Linked DNA regions of Homo sapiens. The protein of the gene in region 2 purifies or fractionates together with the protein of the main gene of each other region. This does not show direct contact. Each region holds a gene or a part of one and is shown on either strand. Other genes may lie near its edges. The genes, in order: KIAA0232 and NAT8L.

Region 1 (3,600 bases), 4.7 Mb from region 2:
GATCCTGAGACCTATTTAAGAATGGTTCAATCCAAAATAACTGATGGAAGAATATTTGACCTTGAGGATGCAGAGTGATAGAATCCGCTCCTCCTCCCCCCCCGCCCTCACCCGCCTTTAAATTCTAAGTCCACGAAATGGTCAAAGTGTTCTGGAACGGGTCTTATTTTGCATAGGAAGAATCTAGCTTGGGCATTTTACCGCACAGTTTTATCCACAGCATCGCCTATTACCAAAACTGCTTGTCCCTACCCCCTCACGAGCTTTCTAACAGTTTTTAAAACAAGACCCAGAAATGTAAAATCCCTTCTTAGGAACTTGAACAGTAAGTCAAAGTATCCAACCCAGGTAATTATTAGCAAGAACTACATTTATATAATTTTTTCCAAAGAATCTCGCATGCCTCCTCTCCGCTGAATCTCCCTCCTGTTTTTAACTGGGTTAAATCTTTATAGCTTGCCTATAGAGGACAAAAACGGAAAGGTGGCAAAAAAGAAATCAAGACAGTTCTGCCATGATTTAGGGGTCTGTACCAAGAGTTCGGCAGGTCCTGTCACCTGCGCACCACAAGACGCAAGCTGAATTCTAGGGCAAGACGAAGCATTCCAACACGACACACACTGGTTTCTCCAGCGGGAAGAAGCAGAGAGCTCTAGAAATGCCGGCTGCAGACGCGTATTGTTGGAAAGGAGCCGGATCAGGCCCCGCAGCAACTCGGGGCGCCCTCGCGACAGGGTTTGCCGCGCAGCGCACGGATGACTGTGGGCCTGTCACTCCTAGCTCCAGCTGTAACCTTCGCCAAACCTTGCGCCGCACCGGCCCCGCCCGCCAGGCCCGCCCCCCGCGCCGCGCCCCGCGCCATAGGCCGGCGCGCCAGTCGCTCAGCCGGCCTCCCGGCCCCGCCCGCCTGCGGCCCTCCTCCCCCGCCCGGCGGTTTTCCCTTCCCGGGGCCCCAAAAGGACAATGCTGGAGGGGAGGGGAACGGAGGGAACGCGAGCGAGCGGCCCAGGCTGCCGGCCTGACCCCGCTGCCGGGGACGCCGGGCGCCTCCCACCGGCCGAAGCCTTCCTCCCGCGCCCACTTTCGGGGCTCTACGTCCTATCAAGTCTAAGCACCCCCGCCTCGTCTCCCCTAGAAGAGCCGCCCCGGCGCGGCGACACCTGCCCCAGGCAGGAGGCAGCCAACGGCAACCCATTGTGCGGACTCATCGTCCACAGCCCACCCGGGCGCAAGAGCCGCAAGCTGGTGTCCCGGCGTCCTGGGGTCGGGGCGGGGGTCCCAGGGCCCACAGCTCACCCGCACGCCCGGGCACCACCAGGATCGGGGCCGGTCAGGCCTCCCTCGGCTGGCCCCGGAGCCATCAACAGCGGCCCGGTCTCCCTTAGGCTGGCCCCGGAGCCATCAGCGGCGGCCCGGCCTCCCTCAGGCTGGCCCCGGAGCCCCCGGCGGCGGCCCGGTCTCCCTCAGGCTGGCCCCGGAGCCCTCGGCGGCGGCTCGGCCTCCCTTAGGCTGGCCCCAGAGCCCACGGCGGCGGCCCTGTCTCCCTTGGGCTGACCCCGAAGCCTTCGGCTGCGGCCCGGCCTCCCTCGGGCTGGCCCCGGAGCCCCACGGCGGCGAGCGTCCGGCCTCCCCGGCCCGCGCCCACCCGGCCGAGGGGCTGCTCCGCGCCCTCCCTCCCCGCCGCCTGCCCGCAGTACCTGCCGAGGCTGCCGGGCGGCGCGGCGGCCGGCGGGGGCGCCTCTCCTCTGGCTCCGAGGGGCTGCGGGCGGCTGCCGAGCGCCGGGCGGCCCTGGCCTGCGCCTTACGTAAAGCGGCGGCGGCGGCCCCAGCGCCACTCCGCGGAGGGCGGGAGGCGGCGCGCCGGGAGCCGCTCCGCTCCGTTACCCGGCAACTGGCCTCAGCGCCCCGCCAACCAGGGGCGCGCTCCATATCCTTCCGCCCGGGTGCCGGGATTACATCAGCGCCGGCCGGTCCCCGCCCCTGCCCCTCCCTCCGGCTGGGCTGCGGGCGCGCGCGGGCGGTGGGCCGCGGGCTGACGGCGCGAGGGGACAGGCCGGGGCTGGTGCCTGGCGGGTGGGGGTCTAGGGCCCGGGACGCGCCGTGCAGCTTGGCCGGGGCGGCGGAAGCCGCTGGGAGGTGAGAGGGCAAGCAGTAGAGAGGGCAGGCAGGAAGCGGGAGCCCCCCAGCGTGCTGGGCGTCGGAGAGGAGACGTCTCCCGCGGAGGGGCACGTGGGACTGCCCTCGGCAGAAGCCCCCGAACTCTGCCGCCGCGCCCCGCCCCCGGCCCGCGCTGGGGAAGTGGGGCTCGGCGTGCACGGCCCCGCCCGCGGCCCGGTGCAGCCCCCGCCTTCCCGGGCTCGCGCGCCACCTGTCCGCGCCCCCTCCTCGCCGCGTCCTGGGATGGCTGGAGTAGGCGGCTTAAAATAAAGACTTTAATTTTTTGTTGTTGTTGTTAAGGAACCCAGAAGACAAGCTAAAGAAATGTGACATGGCTCTTTTTTTATTAACTAGGCAAAAATAAATTCTGGAAGCTTCGAAAGTGGAAACCAAAAATGTGCATTAACCTTTTAATCAAAGTGTCTTCACAGCCACCTACCTTCCCTAAATGTGACTCCTAGGCCTGTTCTAAAAAAGCAAATAAGTATCATGGACCTGGAAAAGGAAGGGAGATTACTTAGAAGAAAGAGGTCCAATGGGAGGAGTGACTTACCTGGGGTCATTTGTTCATTTATGCAGCACCCACTAGGTGCCAGGCACTATGCTTTTCTGTTCAGAACCTGTTGGAGAATTTCCTGCACCAGCTCACGGGCTTGTGGGAGAAGCAGATGCTGAAACACTGGAGAGGGGTCATCTGCTGAGTTGGCTAGATGCTCCATGCATCCATGGAAGGACAAACCGAGGAACTGTCGCTTACGTACTATCTACAGAGTGTTTTTTCTGCGAACATATCTTTTTGTTCTTTACAAAAATCGTGGGACAAATCTTTGTCATCCGCATTTAACTGGTGAGGAAGCTGAGGCTGAAAGAAAGTGATTTCACCCAAGCCTGGCTGCTACCGAGTGGACAGGGCCTTCTGACCTTGCTAAACCACCTCTTGCAGGAGACAGAATGTGAACCCAGGCTCCTGGCTCTGAAATATGGGGTTTCGTTTCCTTTACACTACTGTCTCCCTTAACCAGTTTGCTTCTAATTGTATTCTCTGAGCATTCGCTCAGGTGAATGTATATCGTCATAAATCACACGTTCATTCAGTCAGTTTCTTCTGAGTGCTTGTTGTGGACCTGGCTCAGTGCCGGGAACGCACAGTCCCTGTGCTCCTGGAACTCAAACTCTAAAAACAGTGTCGAGAATGGAAAGGGTATGGGAAATCCAGGGCCACTTGGGAGTAGAGGAGGGGAGAGTAGCAGAGCTTCAGAGCCTAGTTCACAGGTGCCTCCAGGCTCCAGGATTTCACAGACCAAAGTATGGGGGATTTGCAAAGGATGGTCAGCTTTTGATTTTTGCTACATTGGTGACATATCTGTCATCTACATCATATTTTACAAAAGAGTATTAACAGCAAAATTTTTTGAAAAGTAATAACAGTATATCTCAGTTCTG
Region 2 (4,100 bases):
GATGTCCGCCATGTCCGTGTGCAGCGCGCACTCCAGGTAGGCGCGGATCACCTTGCGGCTGTAGTAGTAGCGCAGGCCCAGCAGCGCGGCCGGCACCAGGCACGTCAGCAGCAGCGAGCGGCTCACGGCGAAGCACAGCGCTGGGGGCAGAGGGCGCGGGTCAGCGGCGCGGCGGGGGTCCCCAGGCCCCAGAGACGCCACCCCGGCGAAGCCCGCTAGGGACGCCGCGCCCGGCCGCGCTCCTGGTGGAGGAGCCGGGGTCATCTCGGGTGCTTTCTACTTCTCCCTATTTCCAAGCTTCCTGCGGTGAAGACAGCCACCCCACCCACCCCCACCGCCTGGAATGAGCCTCGGCGGGTCTCTGAGCTTCCAAACACGGCAGGACACCCTCGGGATGGCCGGGCCGGGAAGGACTCTGCCCACGCTGGCCTACTGAAGCCAAGGTGGGCAGATCCTGGCAGGGAGCTGCCCCGCAGACCAGGCCCCGCGCGGGGGAGGGGGGAGGGGGGAGGAGGAAGGGGGGTGTCCCACGTTCCAGCCTCGGGCTCCAGGACCCCCTCTTCCCAGGGCCCCAGCAAGAGCCCTTCCTGGCCAGCGTCCGGGAGCTCTGAGGGCAGGGACAGGGCAGGGAGGCCCCACACCGCTTCCAGCCGCATTTCGGCTGCCGTGACCTTGGGGGAGTCGCGTCCTCCCTACGCGGCCTCAAGCGCCTCATCTGTAAAATGGGAGCGAACCCCCTCACCCCGGCAGGAAGCTCTGAGGGGAAGGGCACCCAAAGACGCTGAAGGGGCCGCCCTCTGCGACCGCCCCGGCTGTGCCAGGCGCGCGCACCCCCCGCGGCGCCGGCTGTCTTCCCCTCATAAATTAGCACCGAGCGGGAGGCGGCCTCCCCCGCCCGCAGATTATATTTAGGCACTCGCCGGGGCCCAGCCGCGGCGGGCGCTACCTGCCCTGGCACCCGCCCCCACCCAGGATGCCCGGGAGGGGACAGGGGAGGCGGTGGGGGTGGGGGGCTGCGCGGCGGGGACGCAGGTGCGGACCCCGGACCCTCCCCGGCTCCGGCCCGCTCGGGGCCCTGCGCCCATCCCCACGCCCATAGCCAGCCCTGCGCGGGGCCCGGCGCGGCAGAAAGCGGGGGGCTTCCCAGGCTGGTCCCCGGGAGCCGGGCGCGGGGTCCGCGTGGACGCCGGGGCGGGGGAGCTCCGCGCCGGCCCGAGGGACTGCGGCAGCCGGGGGCCCGGCGCACTGACCCGCCAGCAGGGCGTAGAGCAGCTGCGCGCGCGGGTGCTGCCGCAGGCCGCGGAAGGCCGTGTTAGGGATGCGCTCCATGATGCCGTCGTAGAAGATGCGGCGCGCCGCCTCCTGCTCGGCCGCACGGAACTCGCGGATGCACACGCCGCGCCCCCCCGGCGGCCCCGCGCCCCCCGCCCCGCCGTGAGGCTGAGCCACCGGGGCAGGTGGGGGCGCGGGGGGCGCGGCGGCCGGCCCGGGCGCGGCGGGCAGCGGGGGCCACATGGCGCCGGCGGCGGCGAGCAGCGCGTCCTTCTTGGCCCCCGGCAGCGCCTCATGGTCCTCGGCGGCCACGATCTTCGTCTCGCAGACCATGTCGGGAGGCCCACAATGCATGCACCCGGCCGGGCGGCGCGGCAGCGGGGACGCGGCCGGGCGGCGGCGGGCACGGCCGGGCCCAGGGCAAGGGCGCGGCGCCCTCGGACCCGCGGCGGCGGCGGCGGCGGCGGCAGCGGCGGCGGCGGCGGCGGCAGCTCAGGGGCGCGGGGCGGAGGCGGCGGGCGGCCGGGGCGCGCGCAGGGAGCTGCGCCGCATTTTGGAGAAGTATTTATAATGCGGCGGCGCCGGTGCAGTCGCGGCGCCCGCGGCCCGCAGGGTCCTAGCGTCCACTGCATTGGCTGCCGGGGGTCACCATGTGATCGCGGGGGTGGGGGAGACGCCGCCCCCGCCTCGCCGGGTGGCTCGCTGGGCGCGACGGGGCGGCCGGGCAGCGCGAGGGGCCCGGCACGGGCGGGGGCGGCGGCGCGGGCGGGGGCTCCTGGCCCGGGGGCGTCCGGCGGGGCTCGGGACCCGGCCGCGGAGCGCGTGATGGGCGCCGCCCGCCCCGCCCCCCGCTCCCACGCCGCGCGCCTGGGAGCGCCCCGACCCCGGGCCCGACCGCTGGCGATCGCGGCGCCACGTCCTCCTCCTCCTCCTCCGCGGCCGCCCGGAGCAGTCACGGCAGCGTCTCCCGCTCCGTCTCCTGCCTTTGTTTGAAAGCAGCGCCCGCGGTGGACCTGGGGAGAGGGCGCCGCGGCTGCCCCGGCCCGGAGCCCCCGGGAAGCCTCGTCCGGAGCCGCACGGGCAGCCGGAGTGGGGACGCGGAAGGGCGGGGTCTGCGGCCTGGCGCGGCGCCCCCCTGTCCGAGCCCCGCAGTGGGCACGGGGATGCGGGGCCCGCAGGACCCCTCCCGGCCCGGCCCCCGCCCCCCGCGGCCGCGCATGCGCCCCGTGGCCTCGGTGCAGGTGCAGCGGGGGCTCTGCGCCTTGTAGGACCTGCAGACGCCGCAGGCTGGGGCGGAGAAGCTCAGGTGCGGGGAGGCGGTCGCAGACCCCATCCTCGGCGCTTCTCGAACCTAGCCCCCTTCAGTTCTGCGCGACCTCCCAGCACCACCCCGAGGGCTGCCGGAGCAGAGCTTCCCCGACATGCGCGGGCGGGACGGGGCCAGGGGTCCAGGCCTGGGGACCCGCAGTCTGCGTTGTGCGGTGGAGTTGGGGCCAGCCGGGCAGCTGAGGTCACCTGAAGGCCAGGAGGGGCTGGGCCTGCCCGTGGACGTGGGAGTGAGGCCGCAGCGCCCTGGTGGGGTGGGGAGGGGCGGCTGAACTGGTCCACAGCCCCGTCCGCCAGAGAACGGGCCCTGGAGAGGGGCAGGGGACGGGGTGGGGGCGTGGGGGGGAGGGGAAGCCAAGCTGGGAAGGCGCCCCCTCAGTGTCTGGGGCCCGCTGTCAGCTTTTCAACCTAAAGGAGAAAACAGGCAAAACGAATAGAAATAGTTTGTTGGGGCCAAGTTTGAGGACTGCAGCGTGGAAGGACAGACTCAGGTTGGTCTGAATGCACGCGCTCTCATTCGCAGCAGTTGCAAGTGCGTTTTTAAAGGAAAAATGAAGACGCAGCTCCTAAATTCACCAAGAATTTGCATTAAAATGGCATAAGCTATTGATTGGTGTACATTATTTGTCACAAATTCCAGGAACATGAAGATGACGCTGAGGCGGCCAGGCGGACACTATAGGAAAGAAAAGAAAGAACAAAATGCCTTCCAGCAGTTGCCCCGGGCGTGAGTGGGGAGGCGGGACTGAGGCCCTGTACTCAGGTGTCTCTGGGCCAGATAATCTTTGAGAATCCCACATAGCTCCGGCTATTTTTCTTTTCTCATTTCTCGTGTTTGATCAAAAATTTTCTCTTCTCAAAGCAGTGATGATCGACATTCTAGATGTAAGTTTTTCTGCTGGGAAGGCTCATTCCCGGGCCATCTCACCCCGCATGGGGGGAAAGAGGACAGGTGCGGTGGGCGCTTAAGAACTTCGTGAGGCCTCAAGGCCAAGGTTGATTGGCACGGGGTCTGTCAGGCCGTCTGCTATGAAGGAGCCACGCATACCGGATGGCTTCTGAGCATCTAGCTAGCATCCTCGGGGTTTTTTGGTTGACTTTGGACATCTAGAAACACAAAGCCTAATCAATTTAAGAATGAAAAATATGGGCCGGGCGTGGTGGCTCATGCCTGTAATCCCAGCACTTTGGGAGGCCGAGGCGTGTGGATCACGTGAGGTCAGGAGTTTGAGACCAGTCTGGGCAACATGGTGAAACTGCGCCTCTACTAAAAATACAAAAATTAGCCGGGTGTGGTGGCAGGCGCCTGTAATCCCAGCTACTTGGGAGGCTGAAGCAGGAGAATCACTTGAACTCGGGAGGCGGAGGTTGCAGTGAGCTGAGATCGTGCCACTGTACTCCAGCCTGGCAACAGACTGAGATTCTGCCTCAAAAACAAGAAAAGAAAAAGAAAAAATGACACAAATAAGGGCAACTATTAACAATTTGAAATCTAGAACTGA

Evidence for each region.
Region 1: the proteins of NAT8L (region 2) and KIAA0232 purify together in Homo sapiens (affinity purification with mass spectrometry; 3 studies listed by BioGRID and IntAct, with this or other methods). This does not show direct contact.

Annotation. Positions count from the first base shown.
Region 1 is NC_000004.12:6,780,939-6,784,538, reverse strand, and holds the start of KIAA0232 (uncharacterized protein KIAA0232), read right to left. Parts: upstream 1,813-3,600; 5' UTR 1,698-1,812; intron 764-1,697; exon of another isoform or gene 1-763.
Region 2 is NC_000004.12:2,057,038-2,061,137, reverse strand, and holds the start of NAT8L (N-acetylaspartate synthetase), read right to left. Parts: upstream 1,812-4,100; 5' UTR 1,627-1,811; coding exon 1,251-1,626; intron 141-1,250; coding exon 1-140. UniProt on the Homo sapiens protein: Catalyzes the synthesis of N-acetylaspartate acid (NAA) from L-aspartate and acetyl-CoA. Promotes dopamine uptake by regulating TNF-alpha expression. Attenuates methamphetamine-induced inhibition of dopamine uptake.